Linked DNA regions of Homo sapiens: all the other regions are linked to region 1. Evidence: fine-mapped expression QTL. A gene starts in region 1. Each other region holds a variant in brackets. All regions are shown on one strand. Distances are between the middles of the regions. Region 1 holds the start of CYP4F12 (cytochrome P450 family 4 subfamily F member 12). Region 2 overlaps OR10H5 (olfactory receptor family 10 subfamily H member 5). Region 3 has its middle 5.3 kb from the start of OR10H1. Region 4 has its middle 23 kb from the start of OR10H3. Region 5 holds the start of CYP4F3 (cytochrome P450 family 4 subfamily F member 3).

The links.
Region 2: its variant is fine-mapped to the expression of CYP4F12 in whole blood (INTERVAL, PIP above 0.99).
Region 3: its variant is fine-mapped to the expression of CYP4F12 in whole blood (TOPMed, PIP above 0.99).
Region 4: its variant is fine-mapped to the expression of CYP4F12 in esophagus muscle (GTEx, PIP above 0.99). The same link has a PIP of 0.9 or more in atrial appendage, gastroesophageal junction, lung, sigmoid colon, subcutaneous fat and tibial artery.
Region 5: its variant is fine-mapped to the expression of CYP4F12 in whole blood (TOPMed, PIP above 0.99).

What each region holds. Positions count from the first base shown.
Region 1 is chr19:15,670,995-15,676,098 of GRCh38, reverse strand. CYP4F12 (cytochrome P450 family 4 subfamily F member 12) reads right to left here and starts at 3,012. Exons shown (of 13, transcript NM_023944.4): 1 at 2,964-3,012; 2 at 2,372-2,570. The coding sequence starts at 2,569.
Region 2 is chr19:15,792,831-15,797,934 of GRCh38, reverse strand. It overlaps OR10H5 (olfactory receptor family 10 subfamily H member 5), which reads right to left. Exons shown (of 2, transcript NM_001004466.2): 2 at 1-3,897. The coding sequence starts at 3,886. The coding sequence ends at 2,939. Among named protein-coding and RNA genes, the nearest start is that of OR10H5, 7.7 kb to the right of the region's middle. The variant A/G (reference allele first, on the strand shown) is at 2,804.
Region 3 is chr19:15,818,433-15,823,536 of GRCh38, reverse strand. It overlaps the pseudogene ZNF861P. Among named protein-coding and RNA genes, the nearest start is that of OR10H1, 5.3 kb to the right of the region's middle. The variant A/T (reference allele first, on the strand shown) is at 3,069.
Region 4 is chr19:15,758,249-15,763,352 of GRCh38, reverse strand. It overlaps the pseudogene CYP4F24P. Among named protein-coding and RNA genes, the nearest start is that of OR10H3, 23 kb to the right of the region's middle. The variant C/G (reference allele first, on the strand shown) is at 2,954.
Region 5 is chr19:15,639,428-15,644,531 of GRCh38, reverse strand. It overlaps CYP4F3 (cytochrome P450 family 4 subfamily F member 3), which reads right to left and starts at 3,635. Exons shown (of 13, transcript NM_000896.3): 1 at 3,587-3,635; 2 at 2,919-3,117. The coding sequence starts at 3,116. The variant A/G (reference allele first, on the strand shown) is at 2,403.

The DNA.
Region 1 (5,104 bases):
TCTCTTCTGCTGCTGGGATATCCGTCTTCTCCTGCCCTCAGAACTCCAGGGACTCAGGCCTTTCTGGACTCAGGCTGAATTTACACCACCAGTGTCCCTGGTTTCTGGCTTGCAGATGATATATCATGGGACTTCTTGGCCTCCATCATCACATTATCCAATTCCCATAATAAATTCTTATCTCTCTATCTCTTTCTGTCTCCATACATACATGCATTAGAGATAAGAAGAAACACCCTATCTGTTTCTAAGGAGATTCCGTTTCTAGGGAGAACCCTGACTAATGCACCTCCCTAGATGAAGCCACAGCAAGTCCCCCCACAGCCACCGGATGTGGTGCAGCCTCTGCAGTGAGCAGCGTGTCTGGATTCTCAGCAGCTGCAGTGGGTTTCTGCTGACTTCTGCTCCTTCTCTCTTGGAGCTGTCCCCAAGATCCAAGGGTAAATACCAAAGCAGAGAGAGAAGACAAGCTGTCTGCTCAAGAGGATGTGTTTTCTCATCCTGGATTGATTTCAATCTGGGGATTGCTATATGGGAAGGTCCCCATGGAAGGAGGTTTGTGGGCAGCAGTGTGGCCTCAGGACATATCCCTAGAGCTGGTTGCCATATCCTTTTGTGTCCTGGTTGGTCCACATGGGCACTGGTTCCTCCCACAGACAAAGGGCCTGCGTCCTGAGGGCCCTCCATTCTCAGCAGCCTCCAGGGGAGCAGAGGTGACTCTAATGTCCATCAGGATGGCAGCTCCCACCTAGGAGAGCCTCACTTATGCCAGGTTCTGTGCTAGTGCCTCCTGTGCACCTGTGGACACACCGATCAATCCTGCCTTTTGTAAGTGAGCAGACAGAGGCCACATCCCCCAAAGGGGAGGGCCGGTCCCAGTCGGAGGGAAAGGTTTGGGAGTACCAAGGACGGCTTCTGAAAGGGGAAGGGAGTGGCCAAATTATATCCAGGTTGGGCTACAGGGCTCACTGGGACATCTTACTGGGGAAGAGCACATTGTCCCTGGAAGGAGAGGGTGTGGGAGACTGCCTGCACTTCTCTTCTGGTCCAGCTGTGTCCCTCCGTGGGGAAGGAAGTCAGAGATAATTCCTGCGGGAAAGCAGCAGCCCAGAGATGGGCAGATACAAGCAAATGGGCCATGCAGGGAGCAGCCTGTCTATCGGGGCTCAGAAGGCTTCAAGTCCAGCAGTGGAGAAGGTGGGAATGCCAGGAGAGCCCTGCTCTGTGCACCCCACAACCATACAGGAGCCTCTGGGAGGGGCACTACGGTAGGGAAGACAGGCAGGAAAAGGATCCAAGCAGGCTGAGGTGGGAGGACAGGGAGGTGAGAAAGGTTTGGCATGGAACTGCAGAGGAATGAATGAATGAGGAAAGGAATGAGTCGGTGGGTAGAGGAATCAGTGAATGAGGAGAGGAATGAGTGAGTGAGGAGAGGAATGAGTGAGTGGGGAGAGCAAAAAGTGAGTGGATAGAGGAATAAGTGAATGGGTAGAGGAATGAGTGAGTGGGCAGAGGAATGAGTGAGTGATGAGGGGAAGGAGTGAATGAGGAGAGGAATGAGTGAGCAGAGGAATGAGTGAGTGAGCAGACGAATAAGAGTGAGGAGAGGAATGAGTGAGTGAGGAGAGGAATGAGTGAATGAGAGGAATGCGCGAATGAGAGGAATGCGCGAGTGAGGAGAGGAATGAGTGAGTGAGGAGAGGAATGAGTGAGTGGGTAGAGGAATGAGTGAGTGAGGAGAGGAATGAGTGAGTGGGTAGAGGAATGAGTGAGTGAGGAGAGGAATGAGTGAGGAGGGGAATGAGTGAGTGAGGAGAGGAATGAGTGAGTGAGGAGGGCAATGTGTGAGTGGGTAGAGGAGTGAGTGAGTGGGTAGAGGATTGAGTGAGTGGGTAGAGGAGTGAGTGAGTGGGTAGAGGAATGAGTGAGTGAGGAGAGGAATGAGTGAGTGAGGAGAGGAATGAGTGAGTGAGGAGAGGAGTGAGTGAGTGAGGAAAGGAGTGAGTGAGTGGGTAGAGGAATGAGTGAGTGAGGAGAGGAATGAGTGAGTGAGGAGAGGAGTGAGTGAGTGGGTAGAGGAGTGAGTGAGTGGGTAGAGGAGTGAGTGGGTAGAGGAATGAGTGAGTGGGTAGAGGAATGAGTGAGTGGGTAGAGGAGTGAGTGAGTGGGTAGAGGAGTGAGTGAGTGGGTAGAGGAGTGAGTGGGTAGAGGAATGAGTGAGTTAGCAGAGGAATGAGTGAGCCATCTCTCTTGCTTCTCTGGGGTCGCAGACCCCAGCCACCATCAATACCTAGCTCACTGAGCCCCATTCCTGCTCCTCTGGAAGTCCATCCACCCTGAGACCCCAGACACATTTTGCTGTCACACTCACCAGGCCCAGGTGACCCCAAAACCAGTTCCGTTTTGGGGGCTGTGGGAAACACTGGAGCCGGCGGCAGTTGTTATAGAAGGCATAGGTCCAAGCCAGGATGCGGGCGAGTAGCCAGGAGCCCACAACCAGCAGCAGGAGTAGCCATGGGGACGTTGCCACCGGTCTGAGGCCCAGCCAGGGCAGGCTCAGCAGCGACATCCTGCAGGGCAGAGGGGATGCAGGGTGAGGACCTGAGGCCCAGGGAAGAGCTCCGGGGACAGTGTATAGGGGCGAAGTCAGGAACTGCTGGGGGCAGGGCAGGGAGGGCTCAGGGGTGAGTAAACGAGGGCTGAGATCTGAAGTCCAGAAAGTCCCAACCAAAACCAACAACTAAGTGGCCTCCAGTAACCTGGTAACCACACAGAAAGGGAAAGAGATGGGCCGATTAGAGTCCAGAAGGGCCCCACCTGAATCCTTGGGAGTTTGCTAGGAGTCCAGTTACCAGGAAACCCCCAGTTTCCCATGCCAGCATCTTGGAGCCACCCCAGCCTTAGGCAGTCCCCTCTTCATCCCAGGCCAGGACCTTCCAGCCCTGCCACCCCCAGCCTGGTACCTTCTGTCGGGAGCAGCTTGTCCCACACAACCTCTTCTCCTCTTCTGCTGGGAGGTCTTTGGCCCTGGCCCCTGATCTAGGGAAGGCCGTAGGAGGCGGGGCTGGGCTGGGCTGGGCTGAGGCAGCCAATCCCCACAGCCTGGGTGTGTCTTCCGTGCCTGGGCAGCCAGCCAAAACCTGGGGTTGGGCCCACTGGGTGCAGCTCAGGGTGCCCCAGCACGAGCACTGAATTCTCAGGTCTCAGTACCTTCTTGGGAGTTTGCAGGGGAAGTTGGAGGGTGGTTAGAGGGGACTCTGAACCCCAAGTTTACCTCCACCCTGCCCTTCCAAGACAAGGGTGTTCAGATAAAAGCATATACTTATCATGACAGTTGGCAGCCAGCTGAGCTGGGCCAGGCCAACCCTTGTCCCAGATCATCTGGGCTCCTCTCCAAACATGGGCGGGGAGGATGTCAGGCACTACATCTTGGTGCAGACTTAGGAGATTCAGAGACAGAAGCCTCTCATCTCTGGCTTCACAGCCTGGCAAGAGTTCAAGTCCTGCCTCCTGGCAGCCCAGGGCCTGAGTTGAGGCCTGACTGCTTGAAGCAGGAAGAAAGAATCCAGCCCCAACCCCGCTGAGGATTACCTTCGTCAGATTCTGGGGATAAAGAGCCCAGCTGGAGGAGCAAACCTAGAAGCTGGGCTCAGCTTAGGAGGACAGAGCGGAGGCACAGGGGATGAGGCTGAGAGGGGCCTTGAGCTGACGGGGTCCAGGCAGGGGAGGGCAGAGCAAGGGGATCCCGAGTGGAGTCCTTGTTCTGCCCTGTCCTTTCTCTGACTGTGGGCAGTGTGGCCATCCTGGGCTCAGGCTTCCCATCTGGGAAATGGGATGTCAGATGAGGCCTTAGAGGGCGACGGAGGAAGGCTCCTAAGAAAAGGGAGCTCCAAAAAGAGGGACTGAAGGGAAGGGGATGACAACTAGCACTTGAGCTGCTGTGTGCCTGTCTCTACTCCATGCGAAAGACTGTACGGAAAGCACTACTGTGTGCACCTACTGTGTGCCAGTTTCACTATATAAAGTGCACTTACTGTGTATCAGATACTGTACATAAATTCTGTCTACTATGTGCCAGGTATGCCACATAAAGCTCACCTACTGTGTGCAGCATGCTGTACATAATGTAAGCTTACTTTATGCAGAGTACTTCATATAAAGCGTGCCTACTCTGTGCCATGTGCTGTATATAAAGCATACCTACTGTGTGTCAGGTGCTCCACATTGAGCATGTGTACTACGTACCTGGTGACCCACAGAAAGCGCACCTACTCTGCATCAAGTAATCTACATAAATCTTGTCTACTGTGTGCTGGCTATTCTACATATAGTGCACCTACTGTGTGCCAGGAGCTCCACATAAATACTGTCTACTGTATGCTGGGAGCCCTTCACAAATCCTGTATCTTGAGTCCCTGGCCCTTTATATAAACCATGCTTGCTGTGTGCCAGGTGCTCTAAATAAAGCACACCTACTGTGTGCCAGATGTTCCACATAAAATGCTTCTCCCGTGTGTTAGGTCCCCTACATAAAGTAAAACTACTCGGTGCAACATACTTGACATAAAGCACACATACTGTGTGCCAGGTACACTATATAAAGTGTGCCTTATTGTGTGCCAGATATGCTACATAAAGAGCACCTACTGTGTGCCAGGTATGCCGCATAAAGTGTACCTACTATGTGCTAGGTACGCCACATAAAGTACACCTACTGTGTGCCAGGTGCTCTACATAAGGTGCACCTACTATGTGCCAGGTGCTCTATATAACGTGCACCTGCTTGTATCAGATGCTCACCTGCATCACAGTGCCCAAAGCTGTCCCACCACCCTCCCAACAGCTCCCTAGGCCAGAACCCTGGGCATTGTTGAAGAGACCTGAGTGATGGCATCCAGAGGAGAGAAGGTGTCCATTTAACACAAAAGCAAACTGAGGCTCAGAGAGGGCAGGCCTCTAGTCCAAGTTGCAGAGCTCATAGGAACTCAAGACTATGAGACCCTCAAGTCCAAATCCGTTCCCTCTGCCATGCTGCTCCACCCCCATTCTTTAGTGTCAATGCCATATTAATATAGGGACATTTATAATGGAGTAATCTCAGGCA
Region 2 (5,104 bases), 120 kb before region 1:
TAGCTGGGACCACACACGCACACCACACCCAGCTAATTTTTGTATTTTTAGTAGACACAGGGTTTCACCATGTTGGCCAGGCTGGTGTCGAACTCCTGACTTCAAATGATCCACCTGCCTCGGCTTCCCAAAGTGCTGGGATTACAGGAGTGAGCCACCACACCCGGCCTAATGCAATATTTTAAAAAACCAAAATGAATGCAAAAAAAATCCACGGTGAACAAAATGTCAACATTTTAAATAATGTTTAAAGGAGGTGAGGTGTCTCCCTCACCTCACCCTGACCTGGCCCTCAGGGTCTAGAATATGCCATGTATAAAAACAACACTAAGCCCAACTTCTCCGGTTGTTTCAAATTTACACAATGACTACTACTAAATAAAGTGAAGGAGTAATCACAAAGCTTATTTTAATTTCAGAATGCATGGACATTGGTCAACCAAACTACAGCAAGCTGGCTCGCTTTTCTGATCACCACGGGGAACCACAATGACACATCTTGGATATAACCCAGAAGCCACCTTTCCTGCACTCTTTCAAACTCACACAGTCTGATTTTTACCTGTTTCCCAGCCTATTCCAAGGTATCTTCAGAATCATGATCAGCTAGAAAGCACTAGCTACACCCCAGGACACGTGGGGTATAAACAGGGTATAACATTCTCTTTTCCATGACAACTCGAGGTGATGGGGGTGGAAGTTTAACATTTGGGATCCCTTTACATTTTATAGGGGAGGCAAAGAATGCCCCCCCAGATATTAGTAGTTAAGTGCCCTAGAACTTCTTCTTCTTTTTTTTATTGTTTTTTTGAGACAGAGTCTCGCTCTGTCACCCAGGCTAGAGTGCCATGGCCCAATCTCGGCTCACTGCAACCTTCGCCTCCTGGATTCAAGCAATTCTCCTGCCTCAGCCTCCTGAGTAGCTGGGATTACAGGCATGTGCCACCACGCCCGGGTAATTTTTTGTATTTTTAGTAGAGACGGGGTTTCACTATGTTGGTCAGGCTGGTCTCAAACTCCTGACCTCGTGATCCACCCACCTCAGCCTCCCAAAGTGCTGGGATTATAGGCATGAGCCACTGCACCCGGCCGGAACTTCTAATATAACCCAGGAACCCGGATTTAATGGGTAGTTTTTTTTTTTTGCAAAGCGTTTAATTTAATTTAATTTAATTTTTTGGGACAAGGTCTCACTCTGTCACTCAGGCTGGAGGGCAGTGGCACAATTACTGCTCACTGCAGCCTCAACCTCCTGGGCTCAAGTGATCCTCCCACCTCAGCCTCTTGAGTAGCTGGTACTACAGGCACATGCAGCCATGTCTAGCTAATTTTTTAATTTTTTTGTAGAGATAAGGTTTCACTTTGTTGCCCAGGCTGGTCTTGAACTCCTGGACTCCAGTGATCCTCCTGTCACGGCCTCCCCAAATTTTGGAATTACAGGTGTGAGGCACTGTGCCTGGCCCAATTTAATATTTGAATGTGACACACTCTTTCGTATTAACACGTCTACTAAAAAACACAGAAATACTACAGCCAGTTTGGCCAAACTCATAAGGTGTATCCCTAATTCTCTGACACTGGGTGATTCCTCCTAAACCCATAGAGACAGCATATTTCTAGTTCTGGGCTCACTCCATTGGTGCTAGCTAGAATGTGTCTCTTGTTTTCAATCCAGCTCTTCCTCCCTTTCTGGAACAGACTGACTTCCCCTCTTCACAGGCCCTGAGAAATGTGTACTTCTTATCCCCAGCTCTAATTTAAAGAATAGGTTCAATTCTAGCTTTTCCATGTCAGTGACAAGACCTTTGGCTAATTAACTTAATCTCTTCATAACTTAGCTTCCTCATCTTCAGAATAGAACTTGGCCGGTGTCACGGCTCATGCCTGTAATCCCAGCATTTGGGGAGGCCGAGATGGCAGGATTGCTTGAGGCCAGGAGTTCAAGACTAGCCTGGGCAACATCGTGAGATCCTGTCGCTACAAAAAATACAAAGTTACCCTTGTGGTGGCATGCATCTGCAGTGCTAGCTTCTCTGGAGGCTGAGGTGGGAGAATTGCTTGAGCCCAGAAGTTGACGCTGCACTTAGCCATGATTGGACTACTGCACTCCAGCCTGGGCAACAGAGCAAGACCGTGTATAAAACCAACCAACTAACGAACAAACAAAATGGAGTTAGTAATCCTATCTTCCCTGTGAAGTAAAATAACTCACATGTGTTAAGCACCTAAAGCCTGTCATTAGTCATTGGGGAAATGCAAATCAAAACCCCAATAAGAAACCACTGGGATGTCTACAGTAAAAAAGTCAGGGCTGGGTGTGGTGACTCACGCCTGTGATCCCAGCACTTTGGGAGGCTGAGGTGGGCATAATGCCTGAGGTCAGGAGTTCGAGACCAGCCTGGCCAACATGGTGAAACCCCGTCTCTACTACAAATACAAAAATTAGCCAGGCATGGTGGTGTGTGCCTGTAATCCCAGCTAGTCGGGAGGCTGAGGCAGGAGAATCGCTTGAACCCAGGAGGTGGAGGTTGCAGTGAGCCGAGATTGTGCCAACGCACTCCAACCTGGGTGACAGAACGAGACTCAGTCAAAACAAAAACAAAAACAAAAACAAAAGAACAAGGAGGGAGAAAGAGAGTGACAGAGACAGAGAGGTATAGAAACAGAAAGAGACAGAGAGAAGGGAAAGAGGGAAGTAGGCAGAGAAGAAGGAAGGGGGAGGGAGGGAGGGAGGAAGGATGGAAGGAAGGCAAGGAGGAGGGGGGAGGGAGGGTGGACTGTAGGTCAGAGAAGGAGGGAGGAA[A/G]GGAGGGAGGGAGGAAGGAAAGAAGGAAGGAAGGGAGGGAGGGAGGAAAGGAGGGAGGGAGGAAAGGAAAAGAAATAAAGGAGGAAGACTAAAGTGTTCCCATTCGCTACATCTCTTGAGAGAAAGTCAGCCATTTCAGCAGTTCTGTGGAAAGAGTTTGGTGAAGCAAGTCTTCTTCATGGCGACCTTCAGCTCCTTGTTCCTGAGGCTGAAGATGATGGGGCTGAGGAAGGGTGTGAGGACCGTGTAGGTGATGCCCATCAAGGTGTCTCCTTCCGGAGACTGGGGACCTTTGGGCTTCAGGTAAATGACGGAGGCAAAGCCATAGTGCACGACCACCACAGTGAGGTGAGAGGCACAGGTGGAGAAGGCCTTGTTCCGACCTTCAGCAGAAGGGATCTTCAAGATGGCGGCCACGATGAAGGCATAGGAGAGGAGGATGAGGAGAAAACAGCCCAGCAGGGCCGTGATACACACCAAGCCCACGCCTTTGGCCACCACCAGCACATCATCTCCACAGGCCAACTTCAACAGAGGTGGCACGTGGCAGAAGAAATGGTGGATCTCCTTGTGTCCACAGAAGGCGAGGTGGAAAATGGCCGAGGTCACCACCATCCCCATGACCAAGCCACCAGCCCAGGAGCAGCCCACCCGGCAGGTGCAGCCCCGCAGGCTCATGAGCACGTTGTAACGCAGGGGGTGGCAGATGGCCACGTAGCGGTCGTAGCCCATGACAGTGAGCAGGAAGGAGTGGGTGAAGCCGAAGCTGAAGGAGAAGAACATCTGACTGGCACAGGCCAGGAAGGCGATGGAGCGCTGGGTGGACAGCAGGTCGGCCAGCATGCGCGGGATGATGGCCACGGTGTAGAGGATCTCGGTGATGGAGAGGGCACACAGGAAGAGGTACATGGGCATGTGGAGGCTGCGCTCGCTCCAGACAGTGGCCATGATGAGCAGGTTGCCCAGCAGCGTGAACAGGTACATCAGCAGGAACAGCAGGAAGAGCATCAGCTGGAGGTGGGGGAAGGCAGAGAAGCCAACGAGGATGAATTCAGACACGGAGGTGTGGTTTAGCCCCTGCATGGCGGCCACCCCTAGTTGGTGGAGAGAGGAAAGAAGACCCAGTGGTTAGGAGCACAGGGGTGTCTAGTGACTCCCACCTGGGAGGACATCTGAGAGCGCCTTCTTCATCTGTCCAAGCCATGGTTACTCCATGTGCAAAAATATGTTATTTATTTTTAGTTTTAGTTTTTGAGATGGGGTCTCGCTCTGTCACCCAGGCTGGAGTGCAGTGGTGTGATCTCAGCTCACTGCAACCTCTGCCTCCTGGGTTCAAGTGATTCTCCTGCCTCAGCCTCCAGAGTAGCTGGGATTACAGGCATGTGCTACCACGCCAGCTGATTTTTGTATTTTTAGTAGAGATGGGTTTCAGCATGTTGGCCAGGCTGGTCTCGAACTCCTGACCTCAGGTGATCCACCTTCCTCAGCCTTCCAAAGTGTTGGGATTACAGTCTTGAGCCACCACGCCTGGCCAAAAATATGTTAATAATAATGTGCTGAAGTTTAGCCTGGGAATGATGGCTCACACCTGTCATCTCAGCACTTTGGGAGGCGGAGGCAGAGGGGGGTCACCTGAGGCCAGGAGTTTGAGACCACCCTGAGTAACATAGTGAAACTCCATCTCTACAAAATAAAAATTTAAAAAAAAATTAGCCAGGCATGGTGGTGCATGCCTGTGGTCCCAGCTACGTCAGAGGCTGAAGCAGAAGGATCACTTGAGCCCAGGAGCTTGAGACCAGTCTGGGCAAAATAGCAAGACCCCCATGTCTACGAAGTATAAGAAAATGTGCCACACATTGTGGTGCATGTCTGTGGTCCTGGCTAGTTGAGAGGCTGAGGTGGGAGGATCGATTGAGCCTGGGAGGTCAAGGCTGCAGTGAGCTATGACTGAGCCACTGCACTTCAGCCTGGGTGATAGAGCGAGATGCTATCTCATAAAACAAAAACAAAAACAAAAACAAACTGTGTAAAGGTTTAAATAAGATCATGCATCTTACTTGCTTTGCACAAGTCTTGGCCCGTAGTAAGAACCTCACAAATAGTAATACTGATAAAAATAATAATTATTATTCCTATTTTTAAATCTCGGTGGTCTCTATTCAGCCACACCTGGGTTGGATCCCCACTTCAGAGCTAGGGGACCGTGGGTTGGTCCCTTGATTGTTGTGAGCCTTAGTTTTCTCATCCCTAAAAGAAATGGATAATAATCCCAAATTGACAGGGTTGTTATGAGGATTTAAT
Region 3 (5,104 bases), 150 kb before region 1:
CACACTTGTAGCCCCCCCTAACTTGGGAGGCTGAGGTGGGAGGATTGCTTGAGCCTGGGAGGTAGAAGTGGCAGTGAGCCAAGATTGTGCCATTGCAGTCCAGTGTACCATGGTCATGGTGTACCATGAACCTAGAATTCAATAATTTTAAAATAATTTTGTAATAATTCATAATGATTTTTCTCTACCTGCATTTTAGGAAAGAAATGGGGAGATAAGAACATTGAAGATCTGTACCAAAATCCTGGGAGAAATTTAAGGTAATTTTCAAGAGAAAGCAGTGTCCATCAAGAGAATCGTAGACTGTCAGGAAATTCTAAAAACAAGCCCAGTTTCAATCTGTTTATTCTTAGAAAACTTTCTCTATAAATATATACTTAAATGAGACATATATATGTTTGCAAAAAAAGTTTACATGGAAACACTATTATGAAACCACATATAGGCTAGGTGCAGTGGCTCACACCTATAATCCCAGCACTTTGGGAAGCCAAGAAGGGTGGATTGCTTGAGGTCAGGAGCTTGAGACCAGCCTGGGCAACATAAGGAGATCTATTCTCTACCAAAAAAAAAAAAAAATTAGCTAGGTGTGCCAGCACACACCTATAAGTCCCCCTTACTTGGGAGGCTGAGGTGGGAGGATTGCTTGAGCCTGGGAGGTAGAGGTTGCAGTGAGCCAAGATTGTGCCATTGCACTCCAGCCTGGGTGACAGAGCTAGACCCTGTCTTAAAAAAAAAAGAAGAAGAAACCCCATGTTAATATTTCTATTTTCATAGCAGCTGTAGTTGGGCGCTCCTGCAGACCATTCAATCCATTCATGGCCAAACAGTGGAAACAGGTTAGAAATCCTACCTATGCTTCCACTGATGATGTTAAAAACATAAATCCAGGAGGTTGAGGCAGGTGGATCACTTGAGGTCAGGAGTTTGAGACCAGCCTGGCCAACATGGTGAAACCCCGAATCTACTAAAAATACAAAAATTAGCCAGGTGTGGTGGCGGGTGCCTGTAATCCCAGCTACTTAGGAGGCTGAGGCAGGAGAATCGCTTGAACCTGGGAGGCGGAGGTTGCAGTGAGCTGAGATCGCACCACTGCACTCCAGCCTGGCAACAGAGTGAGTGAGACCCTGTCTCCAAAAAACTCCACATAAATCCAATACCCATCAATAACAAATAAATTATTTATAAAAATACTTAATAATGTACTTATTTTGTACAGAAATCATATGGTAGAGAGACCCTGTGAAAATAAAGAAGGTAGTCAATGTGGAGAAGCCTTCAGCCAGATTCCAGGTCATAATCTGAATAAGAAAACGCCTCCTGGAGTAAAGCCACCTGAAAGCCATGTGTGTGGAGAGGTCGGCGTGGGCTATCCATCCACTGAAAGGCACATCAGAGATCGCCTTGGACGCAAACCCTGTGAATATCAGGAATGTAGACAGAAGGCATATACATGTAAGCCATGTGGGAATGCCTTTCGTTTTCACCACTCCTTTCACATACACGAAAGGCCTCACAGTGGAGAAAACCTCTATGAATGTTAGGAATTTCAGAAAACATTCACTTCCCCCCCAAACCTTCAAAGATGTGAAAATGCATAGTGGAGATGGACCTTACAAATGCAAGGTGGGTAGGAAAACCTTTGACTCTCCCAGTTCATTTCGAATACATGGAAGATCTCATTCTGGAGAGAAACCCAATGTGTGTAGGCACTGTGGGAGCACCTACAATCATTTCAGTTTTGTGTGTGTGTGTGTGTGTGTGTGTGTGTGGCAAGGTCTCACTCTTGTCATCCAGGCTGGAGTGCAGTGGCACGATCTCAGCTCACTGCAGCCTTTGCCTCCCAGGTTCAAGTGATTCTCCTTCCTCAGCCTCCCAAATAGCTGGGATTACAAGCGCGTGTCACCACGGCCGGCTATTTTTTGTATTTATGGTAGAGACGGTGTTTCACCATGTTGGCCAGGCTGGTCTCAAACTCCTGGCCTCAAGTGATCCGCCTGCCTTGGCCTCCCAAAGTGCTGGGTTTAGAGATGTGAGCCACCACACTTAGCTGGGATTCTTCTTAGCAAGAGCTGAAAGACTAGGGTAAAAGGACTCAAGGCCCCAACAAGCCTGTCTTGAAGCTCTTTTTGATGGTAGGAGCACCCGGTGGCCAAAGATACCCATACATCACAAACATCTGGATAGAAGTAAGAGGTCTCCCTCCCATGCTGTGTCATTGAGTGCACACCAAGTTTCTTGGGTTATATATTTGGCATTTCTGTAATTCCATAGAGATAATCATCAACGGTTTTCCCCAAGTGATACCTCCTTGGGGGCATCCTAATCCTTGAGCACTGGCATACCGTTTCAGTGCCAGTCTTGTGGCCATTTCTAGGCCTAAGTTTTCCAGTTTAAGTCCCCTCTCTGAGCCTTCTGGCTGGAAAATGTCTTTGTGAATCCACATCCACCCATGCTTTCGAAGAGTCAACAGAGATCCCAAGCGGCTGTGATGTGAGATGGTGGAGGAAGCAGTGGCAGAACCCAGGTCATGAGTGTGAGTGACCTCAGTTACTCCAATCCCTGCAGCTACATAAGAGCTCAGTCACCCACAGACACGGTCACAATAGTCTCACAACTGAAGAAGACGCCAAGGTTATTTTTCTTCTTCAGCACTGGTTTTGTTGTGTCCCATAAGACAGGGGTTCCCCAAAACGCCCAGCTGGTAGCGGTCTGTGGCTGTTAGATCTGGGCCACACAGCAGGAGAGTGGCGGAAGGGGTGGGGTGGGGTGAGCATTACCACTTGAGCTCCGCCTCCTGTCAGATGGGTCAATGGTGGCATGCTGGTATTAGATTCCTATAGGAGCGTGAACCCTATTGTGAACTGTGCACACGAGGAATCTGGGTTGGGTGCTCTTTATGGGAATCTCATGCCTGATGATCTATTACTGTCTCCCATCACCCTCAGATGGGACAGTCCAGTTGCAGGAAAACAAGCTCAGGGCTTCCACTGATTCTACATGATGGTGAGTTGTATAATTACCTCATTATATATTACAATGTAATAATAATAGAAATAAAGTGCACA[A/T]CAATAAATGTCATGTGCCTGAATCATCCCAAAACCATCCCCCAACCCCAGTCCGTGGAAAAATTATCTTCCATGAAACTGGTCCCTGGTGCCAAAAAGGTTGAAGCCTGCTGATGTGCTACTAGTATATGGAGTATTTCCACAGTACACGTGCAATAGTCATAAACTCAAAAGCACAGACAATGGTAAAATATATATGAAATAATTAAGAAGTGATACATTTTAAGCAGTTATTACAGCTTTAAGCTTCTAGAGTTCATTACTTTCTCACCTGCTTAATCTTTAAGAAAATTATTTGTCTCTAAGAACTTCTGAGACTTTCAGATAGAAGAATCAATCTCCTTATAATCTGTATTTACAGAAGACCTGCCATCAATTGGTAGGTGCTGAAAATAACGCTAAGAGTCATAGATGAACCTTTCAATCATGACAGAAGTGAGAAGACAGAGCTCACTCCTAGATTCCCTTAATTTATTTCACTGTAATTTCATACAGTTTACTTTTAATCAGAGCTGTGTTTAACAACCAGGTTGCAACAATTTTCAGAAGTTGACAACTGGCTGTTCTGAGTTGGTTGAAGCTGTTCAGTCATCACCTCCCCCGATCCCATCCTCCCTCAGGTGGCTGAACATGTCACTCATAGGATTTATTTATTTATTTTTAATTTGTAAATAATTGTTGGTAGAGATGGGGGGGTCTCATTATGTTTCCCAGACTGGTCTTGAACTCCTGGCCTCAAGTGATCCTCCTGCCTCGGCCTCCCAAAGTGCTGGGATTACAAGGATTTAAACCCTCTGGTGACTCTCCAGACATCAAGAGGAAGCCACAGCTCCTTCGACCACCCTCCAAGTCTCCTTAAGCTGTCCTTGGCCACCTCTCCAGACCCTCTTCCATCTTTGTCCTCTCCTTGCCTCATGTCCCTGGCTTACTAGACTGCATTCAGGCTCGTTCCACCATATCCCTCTGAAGCCATCTTCAAGACTCTGTTCTGTCTACTTGTAGCACCTTTTCTCTGATCTTCTGACTGGCTGAAGTCTACTCATCCTTATGACTCCCATCACCAATTTTGATGGACTTTTCCTGGTCCTGCCACCCCTCCTTGCTAGCTCAACATCGATCACACCATGACATATTTTTTTTTTTTTTGAGATGAAGTCTAACTCTATCACCCAGGCTAGAGTGCAGTGGTGCGATCTTGGCTCACTGCAACCTCTGCCTCCTGGGTTCAAGCGATTCTCCTGCCTCAGCCTCCCAGGTAGCTGGGATTACAGGTGCCTGCCACCGCGCCCAGCTAATTTTTGTATTTTTAGTAGAAACGGGGTTTCACCATGTTGGCCAGGCTGGTCTCGAACTCCGGACCTCATGATCCATCCGCCTCGGCCTCCCAAAGTGCTGGGATTACAGGCGTGAGCCACCGTGCCCTGCCACCGTGACATAATTTTAACTTTAATATTTGTGTCTTTCCTGCCACTGTGTACTCCACAGGAGAAGGTTTCCAGCTTCATTTATCTTTGTACCTTGGTGCCAGGCACACAGTTGTCGCTCCATAAATGTCTGCATATTAGTTACTTAGTGTGAGCATGTTTTATAATCCCGATTAGTCTGTTTATGTGCTCCTGGAACAGATAAGTTAGAAATGGCTAAGTTCAAAGTTCTTCATTATATTTATATCATTCCAAATTTTGAAAAATCTCTCCAAAAATTTTAAGGCTTTAATTTGTATACGTGCTGCCATATCTTATTTCTGCGGGTCCCTCCAGTGTATCTAAATTCCTCCAAGACAAAGATGCCAAGAACATACACTGGGGAAATGACACTGTCTTCAGTAAATGGTCCTGGGAAAACCAGATATCCATGTACAGAAGAATGAAACTAGACCCCTATCTCTCACCACATAAAAAAATAAAGTCAAAATGGATTAAAGACTTAAATCTAAGACCCCAAACTATGAAACTACTAAAATAAAACATTAGGGAAACTCTCCAGGACATTGGTCTGGGCAAAAATTTCTTGACTACGGGCATAGACAACGAGAG
Region 4 (5,104 bases), 87 kb before region 1:
TTTCATACTTACTTAAAAGGATGTGTATTACAATAATCTTTTTTTCTGTCTTTTGTTGCAAAAGATTGCCTTTTGACTTGTTTGAGGGTACTTTTGGTTAATTTTTATGAAGTCAAATTCGTCTACATTTTCTTTTGCAGCCATAGTACCCATCTATTTCCCAGAGTTTCGTTCGTCTACATTTTCTTTTGCAGCCATAGTACCCATCTATTTCCCAGAGTTTCGTAGAGCTTCCTTCAGCAGATGGGAAGTTTTCATTTATTCACTTGTCTGTCTCTGAGCTTTCTAGTCTTTTGAATAGGTCTGTTTTTCTGTTCTTACAGCATTGCCAGACTATTGCTATTACTGCAACTTCTTAATAGGTTTTAATAGCTGGTAGAGTGACTTTTTTTTAAATCACCCCTTACATACATTTGTTGCCATGGTAAAGTGTATCTTTTATTTGGATTGAGAGAAATTTATAATAAAATACAGAGATTTCATGTTTCTTTTTAAGTTTAATCCAGGTATTTTATATTATTATGACTAGCATCTTTTATTATCATCTTTTCAGTTGGTGGTTATTTCTACATGAAAAACTAATGATTTATACATATAAATTCTGTGCCCAATGAACACAGTACATGCTAAAGATGATGCTGTGTATCAAGAGAAAAAATAAGTAAAAGCTCTTGGGACAACTGGAAAGCCTTCTGGAAAAAAGGCAACAAGCTGGTTCTCATGTCTTATGACAAGATAATGTCCAGATTAATAAAATTTTTTTAAAAGAGTCTTAAAAGCCCTAGATGAAACCATGAGAAAATTATTTCATAGCTCCAGAGTAGGGATAACCTTATTTTGACGTAAGTTCCAGGGGCTAAGAAAAAGTGATAAACTGTTAAATGAGAAAAAGATATAGGCCAGGCACGGTGGGTCATGGCTATAATCCCAGAACTTCGGAAGGCTGAGGTGGGCTGTGGTGGGCAGATCATCTGAGGTCAGGGGTTCAAGACCAGCCTGGCCAACGTGGTGGAATCCCATCTCTACTAAAAATCAAAAAAATTAGCCAGGCATGGTGGTGCAGGCCTGAAGCCCCAACTACTCAGGAGATTGAGGCAGGAGAATCACCTGAACCTGGGAGGTGGAGATTACAGTGAGCGGAGATTGCACCACTGCACTCCAGCCTGGGCAACAGAGTAAGATTCTGTCTCAAAAAAAAAAAAGATGCAGAATACTAGTGTATAGTAGATGGTGTGCTCCTATATAATTTTTTTAATATACTAAATATTAGCACAGGAAGGACACATTAAAAAAATAATAACCTGGGCAACATGTGGGGAGAAGTAGATGGCATTGGGCCATAGGAGTGGATTATATTTTACAGTTTTCAAATTCTGAATCAGATAGGTTTAGATGGTATTAAAATTTTAAATAGCCAAGGCAAAAGAAGAAAGATTAAGCAGATAATTCAGCTCCTTTACTGGATCTTAAACGTTTATAAACGTTTTCCAGTGGAGCTTCCTGTGTTTTCTAAGTATAACATCACTATCTGCCAAAATGATACATTTACTCCCACATTTCAAATTGCATGACTCTCTTGTTTTTCCCTTGCCTAATTGCACTTGCTGGTATCTCTAGTTCCATGCGAAATAAGAGCAAAACATTGGATCTGGGTATTTTGTTTCTTATTCATTTGCATTTGAGTTTGCTTTCTTGCCATAGACAATATTTATTTTTATGCAAATTTGTTAACTTTTTTCAGCTGGCTTCTGGGTGTGTTTTCCTCAGAGTATATATTTTTAACTACTTGGCTAAATTTTCTCTGGTACTTCTAATTCTCTGTTTTTCTAATTTTTTCTGTTTTTCTAATTCTCAAACTTTTGATCCATGTGGAGTTTATTTTGTTACAGGGAGAAAAGGTCTCACTTGGAAATAGAGAAGCTGGAGAAGTGTGTCTTTGCTCCCTTGATAATGATTGGGGCTGGGGTGTTGCCTTAGGTACGACCTGGCCCAGCTGCCCTTCCTGACCATGTGCGTGAAGGAGAGCCTGCGGTTGCATCCCCCTGTTCCGTACACCTCCCGCCACCGCATCTGGGACATTGTGCTCCCAGATGGTAGGGTCATCCCCAAAGATGCTCACAGCCTCATGGGGAGGAGCCCCCCGGGTAGGAAGAGGGGTCCTTCAGGGGGATCCTTGTCCTGACTGCCACCTTCTCTCCCACAGGCATTATCTGCATCATCAACATTATAGGAATCCATCACAACCCAACTGTGTGACCGGATCCTGAGGTGCTGCCTTTCCCATCCACCCCCGACCCCCTGCCCTCTTTGTCAATTCCAAGGTTCCTAGAGGAGGAGGCAGGGTTTTGATCAGGAAAATCCAACATCACCTCGCCCCAACACACACACAACTGTCTTTCCAAGGCTGCTGGACCTGGGAGACCCCACCCAGCAGCCCTCTTGGTCTTACCTCCAGGTCTACAACCCCTTCCGCTTCAACTCAGAGAACAGCAAGGAGAGGTCACCTCTGGCTTTTATTCCCTTCTCTGCGGGACCCAGGTAAGGGCCACCTGTGTCTGGTATGGGGATGGGGTGATAGGTGCGAGGGTCGAAAAAGGGGGAAGTTTGCAGATGGTCCCAGTTCCAGTTCTCTTTCCCTCCATTCCTTCACAGTTTATGGGAAAATGTCCATAGAATGGGGGTGAGTAGGTCCTAGAGGGTCCGCAGAGTGCTCAGAATCCCCTCCTCCATCTGCTGGTCTGAGCTGGGAGCTGGAGTCTGGCCCAGGCTCTGGGGGACATGCAAACCCACAGGGGGGTCCCACGCATGCTCAGCCCCTCTCTATCTCTCAGGCTGATCTGGGTGCGGTTGAGGATCCCGGGCCAGGTTTCCGGCGTGATGGGGCCCAAATGCGGATCCTGGGCGCAGTCACAGTCCCCACTCCCACCCGCAGGAACTGCATCGGGCAGGCGTT[C/G]GCCATGGCGAAGATGAAGGTGGTCCTGGCGCTGACGCTGCTGCGCTTCCGCTTCCTGCTGGACCACACGGAGCCCCGCAGGAAGCCGGAGCTGATCATGCGCGCTGAAGGAGGACTTTGGCTGCGAGTGGAGCCCCTGAACGCGGGCTTGCAGTGACCCTCTGACCCATCCACCTGCCTTTCCAGATTCTCCGGAATAAAACTGTGCCTGGGCCTCTACTGACAGCCAGCAGGGGGCTCTTGAGGACTGGGAGGCGTCAGGGAAGGGGCATAACCTGGGCGGGTTAGGTGGGGTGTTGTCACTGAACCCAAGAACCTGACTGCCTCTTTGGCTGATCATAGGGCCTCCATGCTTTGGGAGTGTCCCAAGACCGAGGTCCTTAGCCAGCTCAGAACACAGGGATAGAAGGGTGCAGCTTCTATCCTGGTAGGCTTTTAGGAATTCTTAGCTCCCTTTCTTGCCAGCATCCCACCCTACGTCTCCCCCTTCAAGTTGATCGCTTTTGTGAACCCCCTTCCCCTACCTTCAGACAGCTCCATTTTTTTTCCTCTTTTGAACCCTCTGACTCTGCCCAGGCAGCCTGGCCAACAGATACTACCTGAATCCTCCCCCTACTCTCCTCTGCTATGTGCCAGGCACCCTCACACATGTCAGGGGTTCAGCACATCCCCACCCTTTCACCTCTAGGTTCCTCCTTCATTCCCATCACCTGCCCATGTTGGGGTGGGGTGCAGTCAGGGCCATCCTGTTTGACCCTTGAGATCCAAAGCCAGATGACTGGAAGCAAAACACCATCCCAAAGGCATGACATCTGGAACCAGACTACTTGGGCTCAAGTCTCAGCTTTGCTGTGTGGCTTGGGCAAGTTAATTCTCCTCTCTTTTCTTCAGTTTTCTCAAGCATATAATGGGGACAACAATGCTACCTTTGTCAGGGTTTTCCTGAGGACAAAATATGAGAGACTCAGAACTGTGCCTGGTGCACATTGAATGCTCAATAAATACGGCCATTATTACCTGCTCTCTGAGAAAGTCTGGTTAATAAAGCATGTTGCCTTTCAAGATAGTTTTTTTCTACCATGACTTTAAATACTGTTTTGGAACTCATAGGCAAAAATTCCAATATCTGTGCTTCTTGAATAATCTCTTCATTTTTAGAGGACTGTACATTTAGGAGACAATTTTTTCCAAGAGTGGTAAAAGCACCTAAAATGTGGCAGGGTGGTAGGAGAAGGAGAGAATCCTCAGTTAATGTCTTAAAATAATGTCCCACTAGTAAAGCTGACCTCTGTTCATAGCTTAAGGAATTCTGCATCTCTGCACCCTGCTGACTTGTCAAATCTCTCCAGCCGATATCCCTCCCTTGTTACACTCAGTCGCCTTGTCCTTGATTCTGATCTCCAAATACATTATATTTTCTTGTACAGGACCATTGCATTTTCTTTGTACCTTTGTCAAAGATCAGTGGTGCCAAGAATATTCAATGGGGAAAAGACAATCTCTTCAGTAAATGGTGGTGAGAAAACTGGATGTCCATATGCAGAATAATGAAACTGAACTCTTATCTCTTATTGTATTCAAAAATCAAATCAAAATGGATTAAAGACTTAAATGCAAGACCTGAAGCTATGAATTACTTGAAGAAAACATTGGGGAAATTCTTCAGGCCATTGATATGGGCAAGAACTTTTTTGATAAGAACTCAACAGCACAGACAACAAAGGTGAAATAGACAAACGAGATTACAAAAGACAAGCACAAATCCCACTGCTACCACTGCAGCTAGTGCTCTTTTGCAAGCTTCACATCCTGGCTGTAGGCCAATTGACAGAGTCCATTATAACCTCTGCAGGCACATAACAGCAACCAGGAAGGAGAAAACTTGTGTGTGACCTCGGTTATCACCATTGCCTGCATCAACTTGGTTAATCAGGAGGTTCTCAGTCTGTCCACATGACCAGTTCATTACTACTACAACTGGCATTTGAGAAAGCCAAATTAAGCCTATTTATAACCAAACAATATCACAGAATCTACGTCACCCCTCTGCCACCCCCATCAGAGCTGGTGCTGTTACCCACTGCTGGGAGTCTTGAGGATAGATCACATCATTGGACCCCTGAAAGCACCCAGAGCCATAGGTTAAAATAA
Region 5 (5,104 bases), 32 kb after region 1:
AACGATGCCCAATTGCATCACCCTGCACTCTCCTTTCAAACATCCCTACTCATTGTTCCAGACATGGCTCCAGTAACTCTTCCTCCAGGAAGGCTTCCAGCCTGCCCCAGCAGAGAACTTGCTCTTCTCTGGGCTGTCATCCATCTCCCTCTGGCCCTTTCTTGACCCCATGAAGTTGGGGATGTCTCTGTCCACATCCACCTCCTTAAGCTTGGGGGTTCCTCCAGGACAGGGCCTTGGGTTGAGGTCTCTTGGGGCCCCAGGGCAGCCCAGAACACCAGGACAGGGGGTCAGATGGCAATGGAGAGAGGAGATGCTGAGATGGGAATTAGTGAATACATGAAAGAAAGATGAAGATGGCTGAGAGAGAAGGAAAGGAGAGACCAGAGTACTGCAGGGGCCACACACGGCTTGGGGATAGAGGGACTTGCAGGCCTCAAATGCACCATAGCACCCACCACCAAGTATTCCAGGTGGTACCTGAGGCGTTGATGACAGACCGGATGATGTTGGGGTGGCAAAAACGGATGACGGGGAAGATGGGGCCCATCCAGACCTTAAAGCCCTGGGGGTAGGTGGCCACCAGCTGAGTCAGGACCCTCATGCCCTGCTCCGTGGGGGTGACCTGCAAGCAAGGCAGGGGCCGTCACCTCCTGTCATGGTTAATTCTAGGTGTCCACTTGACTGGGCTAAAGGATGCCCAGATAGTTGATCATCCGTCTGTGAGGGTGTTTCCAGAAGAGACTGGCATTCAATTTGGTAAACTGAGGAAGGAAGAATCACCCTCCCCAGTGTGGGCAGAGCTCATTCAATCTGTTGAGAGCCCAGGTAGCACAAAAATGCAGAGGAAAGGCTAATTTGCTCTGTTGTGGGGCTGGCACATCCATCTTCTCCTGCCCTTGGACACCAGAACTCCACCGTCTCAGGCCTTTGGACTCAGTTACACAACCAGTGTCTGTTTATCCAGCCTGCAGACAGCAGTCCATGACGCATCTCAGCTTCTATAATCCTGTGAGCCAATTCCCGAAATAAACTCCCTCTTCTATCTATCTATCTGTCTGTCTGCCTGTCTGTCTATCTATCTATCTATCTATCTATCTATCTATCTATCTATCTATCTATCTATTTACCTATATATATCTCTACATATCTACCTATCTATGTATCTATATATGTATGTATGTATGTATCTATCTGTCTATCTATCTATCTATCTAATCTATCTATCTACCTATGTTTCTATGTATCTATCCATCTATCTAATCCATCCATTCTATCTTATATATCTGTCTATCTATCCATTCATCTATCCTATCTGTGCATCCATTCATCCATCTAGCCTATTATCTATCTACCTACCTATCTATCTATTCATTTATCTATCTAATCTATTCATCCTATCTAACTTTTCTATCTATATATCTATCTGCCCATCCATCCATCCATCCATCCATCTTATCTGTACATTCATCCACTCATCCATTTATCCTATTATCTATCAATCATCTAGCTATCTATCCATCCATCTAATCTATCCATCCTACATATCCACTCTACCTATCTATCCACCTAATGTATCCATCTTATCTACTACTTTATGTATGTATTATCCATCCATCCATCCATCCATCCATCCATCCATCCATCTTATCCATGCATCCATCTGTCCATCCATCCATCTATCCTGTTATCTATCTATCTATCTGTCTATCTACCCACCTACTTATCCAGCCAGCCAGCCATCTATTCACCCTATCTGTGCATCCATCCATCCATCTATCCTATTACCTATCTATCTGTCTACATTCCTCCTGCTCTATCTCTCTTGGGGCCACCCCCAAGTCCCAAGAGCGCATCCCAAGGCAGAAGGAAAAGACACACTGTCCACTCACAGAGGCCCACTTAGCTTGAGAGGAAAAATTTCCTTGTTCTGGGAGTCATTTCAGCCCAGAGGTGGGCATATGAGGAGGTCCTCACAGGGGAGGTTTGTGGGGAGCAGTGTGGACTCAGGACATGTCCCTAAGGCTGGTCCCCACATCCCTTCATGCCCTGGCTGGTTCCTCCACCAGCCACACAGGTTCCAGTTCCTCCCATGGAGAAGGTTCTGCACACAGGGGACCTTCCCTTCTCAGCAGTCACTAGGGGAGCAGAGGTGACTCTAACTGTCCATCATGACAGTGGCTCCCACCTGGGAGAAGCTTCTGCACCAGGCTCTGTGCTAGTGCATCCTGTGCACCCTCCCACTTCACCTGTGGACACACCCATCAATCCTGCCATTTGCAATGAGCAGATTGAGACCACGTTCCGCAAAGGGGAGAGCAGGTCTAAGTCAGAGGGCAAGGTCTGGGGGAGGAGAAAGGTCAGGGAAGGCTTCTGAAAGGGGAAGTGAGTGGCCAACTTTT[A/G]TGTGGGTTTGGCAACAGGACCCCATTGGGACATCTTACTGGGGAGGAACAAGATAAGAGGAAGGTGCCTCCGGATGTGGTGGAGGTGAGAGACAGCCCACACCTCTCCTCTGGCCCACCTATACCCTCATAAGAGGAAATAGGCCAGGTAGGGAGAGGACCCTGAACAGTGGGTACAGGAGGCCTCGAGTCCAGCAATGGAGAATGTGGGAACGCCAGGGGTTCACCTTTCTGTGCACCCAACCCCCTGCCCAAGAGCCCCGCAGAGGTGCATTAATGTGGAAAGACAGGCAGGAAAAGGATTCAACACAGGCCAAGAGTGGGAGAACAGGGAGGTGAGAAGGGCTTGGGTTGGCACCTCACAGAAATGAGTAAGCAGAGGAATGAGTAAGACGCCTCCCCTGCTTCTCTGCCACCCCAGACCCCAGCCCACCCCCTCTCACCTGAGCCTCATTCTTACCCCTCAGGAAGTCCATCCACCCTGAGACCCCAGACCCGTCCTGCTGCCACACTCACCAGGCCCAGGTGACCCAAGAACCAATTCCGTTTCGGGGGTTGCGGGAAACACCGGAGGCGGCAGCAGTTGTCATAGAAGGTATAGGTCCAGGCCAGGATGCGGGCCAGGAGCCAGGAGGCCCCAACCAGCAGCAGGAGCAGCCACGGGGATGCTGCCATTGGCCAAAGGCCCAGCGAGGACAGGCTCAGCTGTGGCATCCTGCAGGGCAGATGGGGTGGTGAGTGAGGTCCTGAGGCCCAGGGAAGGGCCCAGGGAGCTCCAGGGACAGTGGAGAGAGGCAGAGACGGGCAGTGCTGGAGATAGAACAGTAAGAGTAAACAGGGATGGATAAACAGGGGCTGAGGGGTAAAGTCCAGAAAGGCCCAGCCAAAACCAGCAACCAAGTGGCCTCCAGTTACCCGGTAAGCACTTAGATTGAGAAAGACAGAGAAACTGATTAAAGTCCAGAAAGGCCCAGCCTGAATCATTAGGACGTTGCCAGGGGCTTGGTTTCAGTTAGAAAACCACTCATCCTCCAAGCCAGCAACCAGGAGCTGCCTGGGCCTTGGGCAGCAATGGAGAATGTGGGAAGGCTGGGGCTCCCCTATGTGTGCGCCCAATCCCTTGCCCAGTGCCCATCTCCATCACAGGCTAGGATGCCCCAGGCCCACCACCCCCACCCTGGCACCTTCTGTCAGGAGCACCTTGTCCCACACAACCTCCTCTCCCCTTCTTCTGGGAGGTTTTTTCCCCTGGCCCCTGATGTAGGGAAGGCTGTGGGAGGCTAGGCTGGGCTGGGCTGGGCCAGCCAATCCCCACAGCCTGGGTGCCGCTCCCATGTCTGGGCAGCTGGCCAAAACCTGGGTGTGGGAGACCAGCTGGATGCAGAGGAACCAGCTCAGGGTGACACAGCACAGGCACTGGATCCTCAGGTCTCAGCACCTCCCACATAAGGTGGAGAGTAAGCCGAGAGGGGTCAGATAGAGTTTCCACTGTGTGACACCTGCTCTTAAAGAGCACCTACTGAGTGTGTGGCAGATAAAAGCATGAACTTGAGAGTTCAGGTGTCAAGCGAGCCAGGCCAGGCCAAGCCTTGTTCCAGATCATCTCCTGTGCTCCTCTCTAACCCTGGGCCGGTAGGACACCGTGTACCACTTCTGGATGCTGAATCAGGCAACCTGGAAGAGACAAGCCTCTATCCCCCTGCTGCTGGATGGAGTTCAAGTCTTGCCTCCAGGCAGTCCAGGGCCCTGTTGGAGACCTGACTGCTAGGAACGGGAACAAAGAATCCAGCCCCACTGAGGATTACCTGGGTCAGATTCTGGAGATTAAGAGCTCAGCTGGAAAAGCAAATCTGGAGGCCGGACTCAGTATAGGAGGACAGAGCGGGGACGTGGAGGGTTAGGATGAGAGGGAACGGATGGGGTCCAGGCAGGGGAAGGGCAGAGCCAGGGAACCATGAATGGAGTCCTCATTCTGCCTCATCCTTGCTCTGACTTTGGTCAGTACTGCCCCTCCTGGGTGCAGTCTTCCCATCTGGGAAATGGGATGTTCGATGAGGGCCTTAGCGGGGGACAATGAGGGCTCCTAAGAGGAGGGAGCCCCAAAAAGGAGTGAAGGGAAAGGGTGGCAACTAGCACTTGAGCTGCTGTGTGCCAGTCTCTACTCTGCACAAAGGCTGCATGGAAAGTACTTCTACTGTGTGCCAATACTCTAAATGAAGGGCAGCTACTGTGTGCCAGGTGCTAAATCCTGTCTACTCTGTGCCAAGTGCTTTCCATAAAGTGTGCCTACTGTGTGCCAGGTGCTCTACATTAACCCTGTATACTCAGTTCCTGATATTCCTCATAGAGTGCCTACTGTGTGCCACCTGCTCTACATAGTGAGTGCCTATTGAGTGCCACCCCCTGTATATGAAGAGTGCCCACTGAGCACCAGTTGCTGTCTACATAACACATGCCTACTGAGTGCCAAGTGCTCTACATAAACAGTGCCTACTGATACCACCTGCTCTATATGGTGACTTCCTACTGAGTGTTTCCTGATCTACATAAAGAGGGTCTATTGAGTGCTGCCTGCTCGAGTGTTGCCTGTGCTCCATAAAGTGTACCTACTGTGGGCTGCCTTCTGTACATAAAGGGTGCCTACTGAGTGCTGCTTGCTCTACATGAAGAGTTCCTACTCTTGCCTGCGCTACATAAAAAGT